Regions from separate parts of the Homo sapiens genome. Here regions 2 and 3 are each linked to region 1. The links come from fine-mapping of genetic effects on gene expression. A gene starts in region 1. Each other region holds a variant in brackets. All regions are shown on one strand. Distances are from middle to middle.

Region 1 (5,230 bases):
GGGCCTCTTTGTATGTGCCTGAGTGGCTGCTCTGTCAAGACAACACACAGCTCTGTGTATCAGACTCAAGGCCCTGGTGGTGTGGAGTCATGAGGGGGTCTCTTGATCCACAGGTTGCAAAGATTCATGGGAGAAGCATGGTTTCCTGGGTTGCACAATCACTCACCACTTCCCTTGGCTGAGGGTGGAGGTTCCTTTGGCTCTGTGCTGCTCCGAGGTGGGCTCCCCACCCTGCCCAACTTTTCTTCATTCTCCATGGGCCGGTGGTTTGCCTAGTCAGTCCCAATGAGAGAACCTGGATATTTCAGTTGAAGGTACTGAATTCACTTGCCCCTTCTCATTCCTCCCTGAGTGCTGCGGGCAGGGGCTTCTAATTGGCCATTATGGATTGATCTCCCTGCAGTGAAGTGTTCTAAGTAGGAAGAACACATGGTATTGTGGAAAATCAACATAGCATGGTGGCTCAGAAATAGATTCTGGAGCCAGGCAGGTTGCTTGGTTTGGAATTCTGGTCCTGCAACTTACTGCAACCTCTCTATGCCTTAGTTTCCTCACAGTTTAAAGAGGGATAAAATAATATCTATAGGTCTATTTGCGAGGTTTTAAAATTCTTGGAATAGTACCTGGCTCATTATACATGCTATAGAAATGCTTATTCAATTAAATAAATAAAAGCATCTTTGGTAAGATAACTCTGAACATTGTATGGTTTAGTAGAGGATGCTGACAAGAATAAATAATTAAAACATATCATGAAGTAAGCATAAAAGATAGTGGTAATGCAAAGATGCGAATGAGCTCTGCTTCCTGTGATTAGTGTGAGCAGACAAATTCACTGTACTCAGAAGCTTAAAGCCTAGCGTGGGAAGCTGACATGAATGAAAACCAACGGGAAAAAATGTTAGAGTAGAGGTGTAAGCAAGAGTGATTAATTTCAACTTGAAAGCAAATGGGGGAGGTTTCACAGAGAGGGGCCCAGCATGTTGGTTGATTGCTTGGGCTCCAGAATCAGGCCAGCTCAGTTTAATGCTGACTTTGTACCTCACTGGTTTTGTGACTTGACCTCTCTAATCCTCCATCTCCTTATCTGTACAGTGGGGGGAAATAATAATGATAATAATAGGTAGCTCATAGGACAAATAAGAATTCACAGTTAATGCATCAAAAATCTTAGCACAAGGCACTCAATAAATGTGAAGCTTTTATTGTTATTACGAGTTGAAACTTGAGTGGGAAAGAACTTCGTTCACATTAAACATGAGAAAAGGCCCAGAAGTTGAAAAGCATTTGACATAATTAAAGAACAGCAAGTCAGTGCCACTTAAACGGTAATCCAACCACCGCCAGTCAGTGAACAGCTTTTTACTGCTCCATGAACAGGTAAGTATAGAAATTGTGAGTAAGCATTTAGAAATAAAAACAACAACAACAACCAATAATTGAAAAACTAATTTTATACTTTTTGGCATACTCATTGTACACTTGTAATAAAAACTGGGCTTGTAGTTTTTGTCTCTTTTCTTATTTGCTAGCAGGTTTTGATTTGTATTTTACAGAAATAATGGTCCATGTCAGATTGGAAATAATAAAAACTTGTCTTTTACCCTTGATAGTTTGAGAAAAAAGTAATTCAGTGGGGTTAGATATGGCATCCGAGAGATGATTCGGGAAAGGTGGGCCAGGGCCATGTTTATGTGGACCCTCCAATGCCTCAGAGTTCACACTTGTTTCAGTGGGCAACAGGACTAGTAAGGTTTAGAGGGACTGTTAACCGAAGGTGAGTGGACTTTGCACATTTTATGGTATTTTTTTTTTCCCAGTAGGCATGTGCTTATTCTTTCTTTTCTTTTCTAATTAAAAGTTCTGTTTGGTTTTTTTAGTTAAGAGGAGAGACTGGAACTGCTCAGTGTTTCACAAAGATAACTGTTTGTATTTGATAAGAGTTTCGTTAAACAAAGGAATTTGCACTTATCAAAACATAAAGCATTGAAAACACTGAGCACATACTCTGTGACCAGAATGCGTGTGACTTGTTGAGATAAGCCACACCGGGTAATCAGATGAGTCTCCTTTCTTCTTGGGCACCCTCATATAATTCAGGCACAAACGAAAGAGAAAACGCTTTTTCTGATCTCTCAGTTCGGGTCATCTCTGCCTTCCATCATCACCGCCTAACAATCCTACACCTGGCAGGGTGGGAAAACGGTTTAATAATCTCTTCCCTTTGGGAGGCGTTTGACAGCTCAGAAAGCATGGCCTTTACTCAGGCTCAGAGACACACAAAAACCTTTCACGTTTTCCTTTCAGCTTCGCAGCCCCGTCCTTCTCCACCTGCACGGGCACCCACTGAAGCACAGGACCCTTCTGCCAAGCCATGAGCCTTCTCAGGCCCCTGCCGCCCGCCTCGCCTGAGGCTGCGCTTCTGAAAAGCACGCGGCCCTGGCCTGCGCACCACCCAGTCTGAAGGCGACGCCCCTGCACGAAGGAGTCAGGCCTAGGGGCTCGGGACCCAGGGCGACACTCAATTTTCTAACAGGAGCCACAGCCCAGAAGCTGAGAAGCCTTCCGGCCGATCTGTGGCCCTGAGGTCGCCCTTGGAGGGCGAGTGAGAACCCCCCAGGCGTTCCGGAGGTGGCCCCCAGCCCGAACCCGGCGCCCGCCCCGGCTTCCCGAGTCAGGTCTTTGCCCCGCCTCTCGGCCCCGCGGCCTGGCCGGCAAGCAGGGCTGCAGTCACGGGGCGGCGCGGAGGGCCCCAGCCCAGTCAGGGGTGTGGCCGCCGCCACCGTAAGGCTAGGCCGCGAGCTTAGTCCTGGGAGCCGCCTCCGTCGCCGCCGTCAGAGCCGCCCTATCAGGTGTGTTTGCAGCCGAACTGGCAGTGCCCGCGGGCGGCTGGGCCGAGGCCTTGGCTCCTACCCGCGGGGGTCGGGCGGGCTGAGGCTGGAGCAGGCCAGGGGCGGGGGCAGAGGGGGACGGACTTCCAGCATCGCTCATTCGGGGGCGTGACGGGAGGACCTGGCTGGGGAGCGGCGGGTTGGGAGCCTGTGGCTGCCCCTTCGGTGACAGTGGAGTCACCGAGCCTAGAAATGGGGAAGCTGTGACGTGGGGGTGGTGGAGGGTGCTGCGGGACAGCAGCGAGCACGGCCCTCAGCCGTCCTTCCCAACACGGTTTCACTTCCCCTCAGCTCCAGGGCTCAGCCCCAAGCCGCCCCCTTCATCCCCCATCTGCAAACAATCCTGGTCCCCCTGAGCCTCCAATATGCCTTATGCAGTTCTTTTGGGGTTCCTTTCGCATTTTACCGTGTACTTTCGCTTTTGATGCGTCTAGTTTCTGCTACTGGACTCTCCTAGAATCGAAGTTCCATGAGGGCAAAGTCCCATCTGACTTAGGACTCAGAGCTACTCAATAAGTAATTGAATGAGTACCTATGCCGTAGAACTGAGTGAATTAACAAATGAGTAAGTGAATAAATGAGTGCATACGAGATACAGCTGAATCAATCAGTGCATGAGTGAAAATAAAGATGTATGAAGTGGAAGCAGTGGAGACGCAGGCTTACAACTCCTGTTTTTTGATAGCTTTCCAAAAAGTTGTGTGAATGTCGCACTTTTGCAAATGGAGGCATTCTGATTGGGACCACTTAAAAAGAGTTCTATGCTGTTCAAATGGTCTCTGGAAACGCCCCCTGGTATTTCCATTTTTGTTGGACTTGGCTATATGTGTTTGCTTAAAACAAAATATGCCTAGGTTTTTTCTTGCTTGTGTTTTGTTCACTTCTACTTTGGACGTTTAAAGAATCATTGTCACTATAATATTATTTCATGTATTTCTTAAAGATAAGGGTGACTCTGAAGGCAGAACCATATGACTCTGACTTGTTTGTAAAACCAGGCTTTTCTTTTGAATTCAGAGTTGTTAAGAATCTTGTCTGTTTTCCTGAGACAGGTGCTGGCTGATTTGCAGGTGACTGAAGAAGGCTACATAAGGCCCAGAAAGACGCTTATCTGTTTGTAAACAAATAGGCTTAGCACATAGCTTTAATACAGTTGGTCACTGCAGCCGTTCTTACTTGCCAGGTCCAGGTTCCAGAAGAGCTGGATGACCTTGGACTTGCCACTTGATCTCTTTAGGTTTTAATTTCTTAATCTCCAAAATGAAGATGTTTAGCTAGGAACCCTGCCTGAGTTAAACCTCTGGGATTCTTTTGTATCAGGGTTAGAAGGTGAAATTACAGATGATTTCATGGAGTTCTGCTTACTTCACCTCCCATAGCATTTTGTCTCTGCTCTCTTCTTTGCTGTTTACAGCTCATTTCCTTTCTTCTCCACATCTGCAACAAGAAAGCCTGGGAGCTCAAGATAAGTGTAATAAACCCTAGGCTGGTGGGGAGAAAGGAGGGTAAGATTTTCTTCTACATTGTCACAGGCTCCTGGTCCTGGGTCTGACTTTTTTCCAGTGCAACCCAGTCTGACAATGCCATATATTCCCAGTATATCTGGGGAACTGCATCACTATTTCTTCGCATGCATTTGAGATTAGTTATCATAGATCACATTTTGGAGCTGGAAGGACCTTGGAGATTTTTTAAAGGCACTTCAAAAGTCATTATACATACATATTTAAATATTTTTGCATGCTACATTTAACAAACACAAAGTTCCAAATGTGTTAAGTAAAATGAAATTAATGTTACCTACTTCAGTGAATTCAAGTTTATAAGGAGAAGTGGAATACACATGTTGCTTGGTGAAAAGGGCCAACTTTCTCACACTGTTTTCCCAATGAGGTCATGTGTCATACAGGCATGGAATGTTACAAAGCTGATATTTATGGGGCACTGACCATACACCAGGCACTGTTATATTTAACCTTTTTACTTATATTGCCCCATTTAATCATCACTATATATCTAAGAGCTAGATACTATGGTAAGTCCTATTTGATCTTCTTAACTAGAAACAGTACATGGAAAATGGGAGAGTTAGGACTCAAAACTCAAGCAGATGGAAACAGGGTTTCTCCCAGAAACAAGACAATCCTGCCAGGAAAAACTGTGTGACTTTGAAGAATGTGGTCTCTGTGTGTGTTCAAGCATATATACAAACCCTGGGTTATTTGGGTAAATGAATTTAGAATGAGAGCACAGGGTGAAATGATGAAGACTGAATTATAGGGGAGTTGGTTGTTTTATCATTTTGAAAATTATTGAATTCCATTGAGATTCCAGGAGAC
Region 2 (5,230 bases), 410 kb after region 1:
CCTATTTGGATTTTTTCAGTAATTGCTATAATTCCTTAGCCTCTCTTTATCTAAACTATACCCATTAAATTATGTTAACTCTTCTCAAAGCTAAATTGCCTCATCTGTTTATTATTTTCCTCATCTTGCCTGAATATTTTAAAACTTACAAAATATGTGAAGCGATTGTTAAAAATCTAAGTAGTCCCAGGACACATTTATTAGTTACTGTAATTGAGTCTTACTGATTACACATGCATTATAAGCCTCATGATGTGCTAACTTTAGCACAACAAAGATACAGTTTTAAAATATTATATATTTAATATTTTTTAAATTCTATGTTGTCAGTTCAGTTACTGTTGCTCATCTCCTTCTCCTCCTGAGTAATGGCCAAGTTATTTTGGTGAGTCTAACATATGGGAGTCTCATCTTTGATAGCAAAATGATGATGACATATAGTCTACTGAGAATATATTCAGCCCTGTTTTCACCTGAGAAGGAGGAGATTTTGCCACCTAGCCTCCAAAATAAGAGCATCTTATTCCATTATTGAAGGGACCTTTGAAGTTTCACTTGTATTTTGATAATTTATGGCCACTTCTTAAAAAATCACTATCACTCTATATATCCTCCTGGAAAGCATTTGTTTTAGCACTTATAATGGATGTTGTAAACATTTGTATATTATTAAGTGCTTTATAACATACACAGTAAAGATTCAGCTAATAACTTTAATTGTGGAACTGTAGGTTTTCTTGAGAACATTTTTTTAAAAAGGAAAACAGATTCTGAAAAACTGATGTTATTTTATCACCAACATGAGTAACCACATCATCATCATCAACATAATCATTATCTTCACCACCACCACCATCATCCAAAATGGCATCTAGTTACATGCTCGCATGGGTTCACATATACAAATATACACACATATGTGTTTAAACACACACATACATGCATATATTTATTCATTCAGTCAGCACATGTTTACTGAGAGCCTACTAAGTGCCAGGCAGTGTTTTGAGGTCTGCCCTCATCTTGCTTCCATTCTAGTGAATCAAGACTGATAATAAATTGGATAAATAAGTAAAATTGTATGTTAGATGAAAATAACTGCTAAGGAGAAAAATAAAACAGGGAGCAGAGATAGAGTACATGAGGAGGGGGCTGTTTTAATTTTTGATAGAGGGGAACAAGGCAGACTTTATGGAGGTGGTAATATTTGGTTAAGACCTGAAAGGATGAAGAGGAGAGCCACGTGGATACCTGGAGGAGAGCATTCTAGCGAAGATGGAGAGTTGTTCCAAAGGTGCTGCTGGAGGCCATGCTTGACATTCAGGGGATAGGGAGGAAGCCAATGTGCTTGAAATGGAGCAGTGAAAGGAAAGCAGTAGGACAAGAAGTCAATATAAAGAAGCCCAGGCAGAGTCAAGCCCCATGGGCCATTTTCTCTGAGTGAGGTTGGAACTATGGGAGGCTTTTGAGCATAGGAGAAACATGATCTGAATCAACTTTCTAAAATAATCATTCTGGCTGCTTGGTTGAGAACAGACTAAAGGGGAACCAGAATGGAAGAAAGATAATAGCCTAGGCAAGACAAGAGTGTAGTTTGGAACAAGATGATAGCTGTGGAAGGCATAGCAAGTTGTCAGGCTGCAGATAATATTTTAAGGAAGGAGCGAACAGAATCTGATGGTGGATTGCATATGGAGTATGAGAGAAATAGAGGAGTCAAGCATAAACTGACAGTTTGGGGCCCAAACAACTGAAATGAGGGGAGTTAGGCAGGGGGAAAAGGGGGAGATAAGGAGTATGGGTTTGAACCTGTTAAGTTTGAGATATCAGACTTTCATGTGGAGAGGTCAAGTAGGCAGTTTGGTAAAAAGTATAGAGTTCAATGAATTGACATTTCTCAAAAGAAGATATACAAATGGCCAACAAACATATGAAAAAATGTTCAACATCACTAATCATCAGGGAAATGCAAATAAAAACCACAATGAGATACCACCTTACCCCTGGGAGAATGGCCATTATTAAAAAATCAGAAAACAATAGATGTTGTCGTGGATGTGGTGAAAAGGGAACTCATACACTGCTGGTGGGAACGTAAATTAGTATAGCCTCTATGGAAAACAGTATGGAGATTCCTCAAAGAACTAAAAGTATATCTACCATTCTATCCAGCAATCCCACTACTAGGTATCTGCCCAAAGGAAAAGAAGTCATTA[T/C]ATCAAAAAGACACCTGCACATGTACATTTATCACAGCATGGTTCACAATTGCAAAGATATGGAATAAACCTAACTGTCCATCAATAGATAAGTGGATAAAGAAAATGTGTTACATACATACCACGGAATACCACTCAGCCATAAAAGAGTGAAATAATATCTTCTGCAGCAACTTGGATGGAACTGGAGGCCATTATTCTAAGTGAAGTAATTCAGGAATGGAAAACCAAATACCACATGTCCTCACTTATAAGTTGGAGCTAAGCCATGGGTATGCAAAGACAAACAGGGTGGTATAATGGACACTGGAGACTTAGAAAGGGGGAGAATGGCAGGTGAATGAAGGATGAAAAACTACCTATTGGGTATAATGTATACTATTCGGGTTACGGGTGCACTAAAATCCCAGGCTTCACTGCTATACAGTGCATCCATGTGACCAAAAAACCACTGTACCCCTAAAGTTATTGAAATAACAAAATGTTTTAAGTATAGAGTTCAGGGGGGAAGTCTACAGATAGCCATAGGCATGGAGTTTTCTTCATATAAATGCTCCATCTGAATGGAAAATAATAGTTACCCTCTCACAACACCCCTGTCCCCCTGTCCAATGGAAGCTCAGCTTCTATGTTTTCAATGCTGTGATTGTTGGTTTTGCTCTCCAGGGAATATAGTGCCCTTAGAGGCTCTGTCTCTTCATCTTGAAGATCCCCTGGTCCTAGGGTCTGGATTCTCCACAAGCCTCCTTTATCACATCATCATGATCCTCACTGGAATCAGTCTCTCTGAACTGTTTTCTTCCTCCTCCTGATGTCTCACTCCCCTCTCTCCTTTCTCCAGGGCTATTGTTGCCACCAGTTCCTAAAGCCATTGGTTGCACCACCTTTCCTTCAATAAGTCAGCTGATGTAATTGGATAGAGATGGTTTTGTGGCTAACTTTTTCAGCCTTTTGAGGTTCAAGTCCATATTCTGTAGACAACTTGAGGCTTCTTTAGTCATAAAGCCAAATAAATAATAACTCAACTCTCACCTTCAGATTCTCCCTGACCAAGATCATTTCTCCCATTTTCTAAATAGGCTGAAGGAAGGCAAGGGCTGAAACGGAGACAGGATGCTACTGCAGTACTCCACGTGAAGGCTGGTGGTCGCTTGGACTGAGTCAGAACAGGGAAACTGATGGGAAGTTGTCGGAGAGTAAGTCTATGTTGAAAATAGAGCCAACAAGATTTGTTGATAGATTGCATTTTGGGTGTACAAGCAAGAGAGGAGTTCCAGAAGAAACCAACTCTACCAGCACCTTGATTTTAGCCCTGTAAGGCTTATTTCAGACTTACAACCTCCAGAACTGTTAGAGAATAAATTTTTAGGCCGGGCACAGTGGCTCATGCCTATAATCCTAGCACTTTAGGAGGCCAAAGTGGGTGGATCACCTGAGCCCAAAAGTTCAAGACCAGCCTGGGCAACCTGGCGAGACTTTTCCTCTATAAAAACACAAAAAAATTAGCTGGGCGTGGTGGTGCACCTGTAGTCCCAGCTACTCAGGAGACTGAGGTGGGAGGATTGCTTGAGCCTGGGAAGCCAAAGCTGCAGTGAGCCAAGATCATGCCACTGCACTCCAGGCTTGGTGACAGAGTGAGACCCTATCTCAAAACACACACACACACACACACACACACACACAAATTGTGTTGTTCAAGTCAGTGACTTTGTGGTAATTTGTGACAGCAGCAATAGGAAACTAATACACAATTAGACATCTAAGTGGAGGTACTGAGTAGCTGTGGGATATGAGTGTAGAATTCAGGAGATGCATGAAAATATGAATTTGGAACTCATCACCATACAGATTTATTTAAAACCATGAGCCTAAATAAGGGTTCCAACACAGTAAGTGTGATAGAGAAAAGAAGAGGCCTTTAGTCTGTTTCTGAGCACCCCAATTTCTATTGGTCAGGAGGATGAGAAAACCAGCCAAGAAAAATGAGAAGGATCATCCAGTAAAGCATAAAAAGAGCCAAGAGTCTGAGGTTCCAGAAGCCAAGGCAAGAATGCATTTCCAGGAGTAAACAAATGTCAAGTGCAGCTCCATCACAGGTTTGAAATTTGGTGCTCACTAATGGTTTCCACTTTAAATTTTTTGCTAATGCCTACAAAAATTCTAGGAGGGACAACCAATGTTTGAGAGTGAGATACTCTACAGAACATGCTTATATTTATCCTTTTAGAGATTGCCTAAGCTCTGATCCTCTCTTGGAAAGCTACATTCTGGACATTAGTTGGATGCTTAGAATAAAGTCATCTGTTCATTTGACAAGTATTTTCAAGTGCCCGTTAGCTAGGTTCTGAGAATATGCTGATGAACTAACAAGATCCCTGCTCTCATGGGAACACTTTCAGTCTAGGGTATTTGCTGAGGCCAAACATCACCTCTTTTATCAAGCTTTTGCCAACATTTTTCAGTAGTTGCTTTCCCTTCTTTGTACATATTCATAGAACTCATCACATTTAATGTATTAGCCAGTTATTGCCTCTGCTGGTAAACTCTCCCCTCCTTTAGGAAAGCAACCCTATCTTAGTCATCTTCATATATAGATACCCTCATATGTAGGTTGGAAATATGATTTATTATTAAAACCAGGAAATGTCTGCAAGAGAAAGGAGGCTCTGTTAATTAACACCAAGACAGGGGATGTAAACTGGGACTTCCTAGGGCAAACAAAAATGTATAGTCACCCTATCACTCAAGTTTACGTCAAAATAACTGTTGAATAAATACATTTTGCTTCCTGAAAAAACACATTTACTGAAATGTGACTTAATATTTTGCTTTTGGCTTTAATTGAGGATCAATATGTAAGAAATAGTGTTAGGAAAAGTGTTTCTGCATCTTTTGTAAAACTGTTATTGGAGACTGTGTCCATTATTTTGTCCAGCGTTCCTCATATAAAGAGCCATGTAATTACTCCCCTTAGAACTGAGCGCTAGAAAAAAATATTGCTTTTTTCAAGGAGA
Region 3 (5,230 bases), 290 kb after region 1:
GTGTGTTAAGAATGAAGTGCTTGCATTCCCTCACCCAGATGCAGTGCAGCAATGGGGTACAGTGGGACCACATTGGAAGGAGGTAAGATTGGTGGCAGGTAGTTAAAAGGTAGCATTGTTTACTGTGGGTCTAATGCAGTATTTCTGGACTGAATGGAATGGAAGTTTTGCCTAACATCTTTTAGAAATTGTTTTCAGGTCTGTTTCAATTCCTAATGTTCTTTTATATAATTTCTGACTCATTTGCTTAATGGTTTCATTTGTGTTTAAAAAAGCAACATCAAACCTTCATTATTTACTTTCCGTGATGCTTTAAATACCACAGAATTCAGTAAGGCCATCAAAGAGACAGAGAGGCCAACATTAAACATTAATTTTTATTACTTTGGCAAAGAATTCTTGAGATAATTCAGCACAGAGGAACCAGTACAGGTCTCTGATAGCTGTACCAAGTGCTGATTAACTCAACCTCACAAAATCTCTTGCCTGTCAACAATTAGTGGAAACATACAGAAATATCTAAATATCCCAAAGATATTGGGGAGATATTTGGAAAGTATATGAAAACATTTAGAAACATCAGAAGTTTGAAAAACAAAGTTTTCCACATATATGAATGAGACTGGGGAAGGGAGTATGGTCTGTTTTCTTCTCACAATTTTATCACCCTGGCAGTTATTGGTGGAGAGAAGGTTCTCAGTAAGCATATGACGTATCTATTACTTTATCTTTACCTTGATTTCTCCATTCCCATAGCTTTAAAAGTCATTAGAGGAGATAAAACAGGGTCATTTATTTTGTATTGTCATATGTATGGATTTAGCAGCATGTGATATCTTTCCTTCCTTCCTTCCTTCCTCCCTCTCTCCTCCCTCTCTGGGTATTCCCTCCTTTCCTTCCTCCCTTTTTCTTTCCAGTATTTAATGACTCCTACTCTATGTCATTGTCTCTTATGACTGAGAGATGCATAAGGCTTAGTCTTGCCCTCAAAAAGCTTACAGTTTTTTGAGAGGTTACACACAAGTAAATGGGCAATTTCAATATAGTATAATAAATATTATGATAGAGGAAGTACACAGTGCCTTTGGGTCATTTAAGGAGAGCACTTAAACTCAGGGAATCAGGAAAGCCTTGTCAGGGGAAGTGCCATCTAATCTGAGTTTTGAAGGACAAGTTGAGTTAGCCAGAGCTAGTTTTCTATGGCTGAGTGGGCCAGATGGGAGGAGCCTGGACCTGAATTTAATCTCCCTGCTGGGGTAAGGCAGGTGTCGGTGGCCACCCCCAGCTTCAGGTGCTCAGATAGAGTCCAGTCCAGTAGTCATAGCATGGTAGCCAAAGGATTTTGCCTTGAGTTCATAATCAAGAAACGCCTCCAGGCCCTGGGGAGCAAGAGAGGAGATAGTAGTACTGGAAGTCTGCCAGACCTTAGACCTTAGGAGAGACACTTGTATGAACATGGTCAAGTGAAATTCTAGTGTCTGGAGACCATGACACAGCTCAGCCTGCACAGGGCTTGGGACGTGAGCTTTGTATGCACAGTGCAGTCCAGGATCCAGCCGACAGTCCAGTTGTTGCCTATACCCGCAGTCAATTGCCATGTTTTTTAGGAAGCCTCTGTCGAGCGACTCTAGAGGTGTTTCTCCCTTCCCTCTTATTACTAAACCTTACAGAAGCTAAGCTTGCTTCTAAGATATCTTTTAGGTTTAATATTCACAGGATTACAGTGTCTGCATTCCTTAGACGCTCCTATCATGCTGTGCTAGTCGGGCACTGTGCTAGGCACAGGGAATGTTGAGATAAAAGGAAGTTGGTTTGTTGTTTAAACTACCCAGATTGTGCATTGTTAAAAATTATTATTTTTTTGGAACTCTTAAAATTTTGTTTTGCCCAAAAAATTACATGACACTTTCCTCTTAGAAATAAGTTAGTTATATAATACAGAAATGTAAAGGCCAAAACATTAATATTTTCCTTCTTTAAATTCTAGCTTCTTTCACCAGCGTTAACAACTGATAACCTTCTCTTGTGTATCTTTTTAGTCCATTTTCTATGCTTGCATATCCATATATAATTGTATCAGTTGAGATTCCAGTAGGAAACAGATGGTACATTCAAATTAGAATAATTTAGACCGGGTGTGGTGGCTTATACCTGTAATTCCAGCACTTTGGAAGGCCAAGGTGGAAGAATCGCTTGAGGCTAGGAGTTTGAGGCTGCAATGAACTAGCATGGTGCCATTACACTCCAGTCTAGGTGACAGAGCAGGACCCTGGTCTCTAAACAACAACAGCAACAAAACCAAATTAGGATAATTGAGGTTTAGTTTAATAAAGGGACTATTTATATGATGTAGAGAGGGTATAGGGAAAGCACAGGGGATCATGATTATCAACCCTAAATCTGAAGGGGC[A/G]CAGAGAGGAAGTGGTCATGGAAACCTGGACACAGAAAGGGTGCTGCAGAAAGGACCCTCTAATGGGCACTGAGACCTGTGATGGAGGGATGCAGCCAGTTCTTAGCAACCACAGGAAAGGGGCTGGGAATAAATGCACTCCTTCCTCTCTGCTTCTAAGCGCCCCCATTGACTGAACCCTATGGGAAGCCAAGGGAACAAGAAAACCTATTGATGTAGTCCATATAGGTCAGCCCCCTTAGCCAGAGAGCTGAGTGGAGAAAGGTGGAGAGTGGATCAGAGGGGCAAACAGAAGGTCTCCAGTACAAATACATACATAGCATATAGTTTTAGGAGCTTTTACTTTCTGTGCTTCCTTGTTACAGAAATGAGATTGTGCTGTAGTACGATTCTGGGACTTTTTGTTAACACAATTTGTCTTGAAGCCTTTTTGCATCAGTATGTATGGATCTAATTTAATTATTTTATTCATTGGCTGCTTAGTATTTCGTCATACAAGGTATCTGAACTTTTTAAAATTATGTATATGTAATAGTTGGTATATACAACAGAATATGTACCACCTATGTGAGTTATGAAGCCTAGCAATAAAACAGTCATCTGTAAATTTATCTCTCAACCTAAGATCACTAATACCATCGACCTTAGTCAATCAAACTACTTGACCTCAGATCATCAGGCAATCAGGCATTAGTTAGAATTACCTAAGGAGCATGCATGTGCAGTTCACAATAGGGTTTGGGTTTCTATGAGAATCTAATGCTGCCACTAATCTAACTGACAGGAGGCAGAGCTCAGGCAGTAATGCTCACTTCCTGTTGTGCGGCCATATTCCTAACAGGCCACAGACTGGTACCAGTATGCTAGCTGGGGGTTGGGGACCCCTGCTATACAGTCTTCCTGTGTCCCCTCACCCCGCCAATGCTAGTCTGAAGTTTTTTGTGTTAATTCTCTTATACTTTTTAAAAATAGTTTTTCCATATTATGAGTATGTTGAAACAATATATTATATAGTTACTTTTTAAAAAGCTTTATAAAATTGCCGTTTTAGTTGTACATAGTCTTTTACAATTTGCTTTTTTAACATAGCATTCATATTGCAGTGTGCAGCTGTGCTTCATTTATTTTCATAGCTTATAACACTCCATTGTGTGAATATGCCGCAATTCACCTCTCCATTCTACTGTTGATGGACTTTTGGGTCATTTCCAGTTTTTGCTGTTTCAAACAGTGCTGCTTATGAACATTTTTGTCCGTGTCTCCTGGCACATACATACAAGAGTTGCTCTAGGGTATATACCTAGGAGTGGAATTTCTGGGTCACGAGGTTTACACATACTTGGCTTTGCTAGGTAATGCCAAATTGTTTTCAATGGGATTATGCCAATTTACATTCCCATTAGAAGTATGTAAGAATTCTGGTTGTTCCTTTTCCTCCTTAGTGCATGGTATTTGCAGAAGGCTTAACTTTTTACCATCAATACTCTTTTCAGGGATACCAAGCAAAAACTTAATGAGAGTCTGACTCTGTTATCATAATAAATATTTTTCTACTTTTCTCTGTAAAAATGATTTTCTCTTTCTTGCCCTATTTTTTTTGCCTCATTGTTCCCTAAGTTTATGTCATCTACTAATAAATTATATTTAAAAATAATTAATACATTAAAACAAATCTGCCAAATGGGCCTTTCAATTCTTTCCAACTCTAAAATAAATGTAATTCTAGTAGAAATCCATATACAAATCATGGTTCATAAAACTGAAGGTTAACATTGCTACCATATGGAGAAGTTAGCTCACATACAAAAAGAGAAAACCATCAGTTCTCCAAATATTTCTTTTTACCAAATTTGACTTTAACAGCAAACTGGATTGTGTGTACTCTTGAAAGGAATAGTGCTCCATCTTGCTCTCCCTCTCTTTCTTCATCCTTCCTTAGTTTTGTTCTTTCTTTCTTTGCTTCTTTTATGTATTCATTCACTGATTCACTAAAACCCAGTGGAGAAGACAAATGAATTATTACTGTGTAGCCTGCAAATGGGATGATGAGGAATGGACAGATGTCTTTTGGAGTGAGAGAAGGAAACTTGACTTCTGTATTTCTTGAGTTCACTTCAGTTCTTAAGATAAAGTAGGTTCTACTGAGTATTTGCTAAATGAATGAACAAATCAATACTCTAAAATGTTTTCAGCTTTTTACTCATTGTAGTGTAGGAAGAGCTACATGGAGTTGAATTTCTATCAACTAGCCCATCTTTTATTACTGGAGTTAGTCTTCTTTGGTAATTTAATACTCAGAGTACCTCATATGATCTCTTTATCGATGCCTTCAGGAGACATTAAACGTTCTATCAATTAATTATACTTAAAAAGAATACCTTTTGGATTCATTCAAGCACTTCATCTTCTTTCCCCAAATCTTGGGAACTGGTGTCAGCTCCTTAAAATGAGCCAGCATGCTTTTTCACCCTCCCATATAAGTAAGAGCTTGTAATCACCCAGTGTTTCTCTGACCTAGAAAAGCTGAGAAATTCACATAAATGAAAACACAGGGGCTTACAAAATTGCTTTCGGCCCTCTCCCTTAGAAGCATATCTGGCACTTGGTAACTGGCTGGATGGAATGTGGGTACTACATGGAGTGCCCTGGTGCTGCTGCTGCTGCTGCTGCTGCTAGGCTTATATAACTTTGAAATCAGAAAGCAGATTCAGTGGGGTAGGGGAGAACTGCTTTTAACAAGCTGCTGGGATTGGCTGAACTTGTGCTGGCCTTGCACTCTTACTATTATAAACTTGATGTCTTTCTCATTTGTAAACTTTA

Alleles and levels. Alleles are on the strand shown, and positions count from the first base shown. SD is a standard deviation of normalised expression in the study named. Not every link is listed here.
In carriers of allele C in region 2, the expression in subcutaneous fat of the gene that starts at base 2,692 in region 1 tends to be higher than with T alone (moderate effect, 0.43 SD a copy in GTEx).

The links.
Region 2: its variant is fine-mapped to the expression of CPQ in subcutaneous fat (GTEx, PIP 0.96). The same link has a PIP of 0.9 or more in sun-exposed skin and tibial nerve.
Region 3: its variant is fine-mapped to the expression of CPQ in whole blood (TOPMed, PIP 0.97).

The regions. Positions count from the first base shown.
Region 1 is chr8:96,642,551-96,647,780 of GRCh38, forward strand. It overlaps CPQ (carboxypeptidase Q), which reads left to right and starts at 2,692. Exons shown (of 8, transcript NM_016134.4): 1 at 2,692-2,852. RefSeq lists a silencer at 2,567-3,116.
Region 2 is chr8:97,052,234-97,057,463 of GRCh38, forward strand. All of the region lies in intron 6 of CPQ (carboxypeptidase Q), which reads left to right. The region is part of intron 2 of LOC101927066 (a long non-coding RNA gene); the gene reads right to left. Among named protein-coding and RNA genes, the nearest start is that of TSPYL5, 220 kb to the right of the region's middle. The variant T/C (reference allele first, on the strand shown) is at 2,217.
Region 3 is chr8:96,936,121-96,941,350 of GRCh38, forward strand. The region is part of intron 4 of CPQ (carboxypeptidase Q); the gene reads left to right. Among named protein-coding and RNA genes, the nearest start is that of CPQ, 290 kb to the left of the region's middle. The variant A/G (reference allele first, on the strand shown) is at 2,411.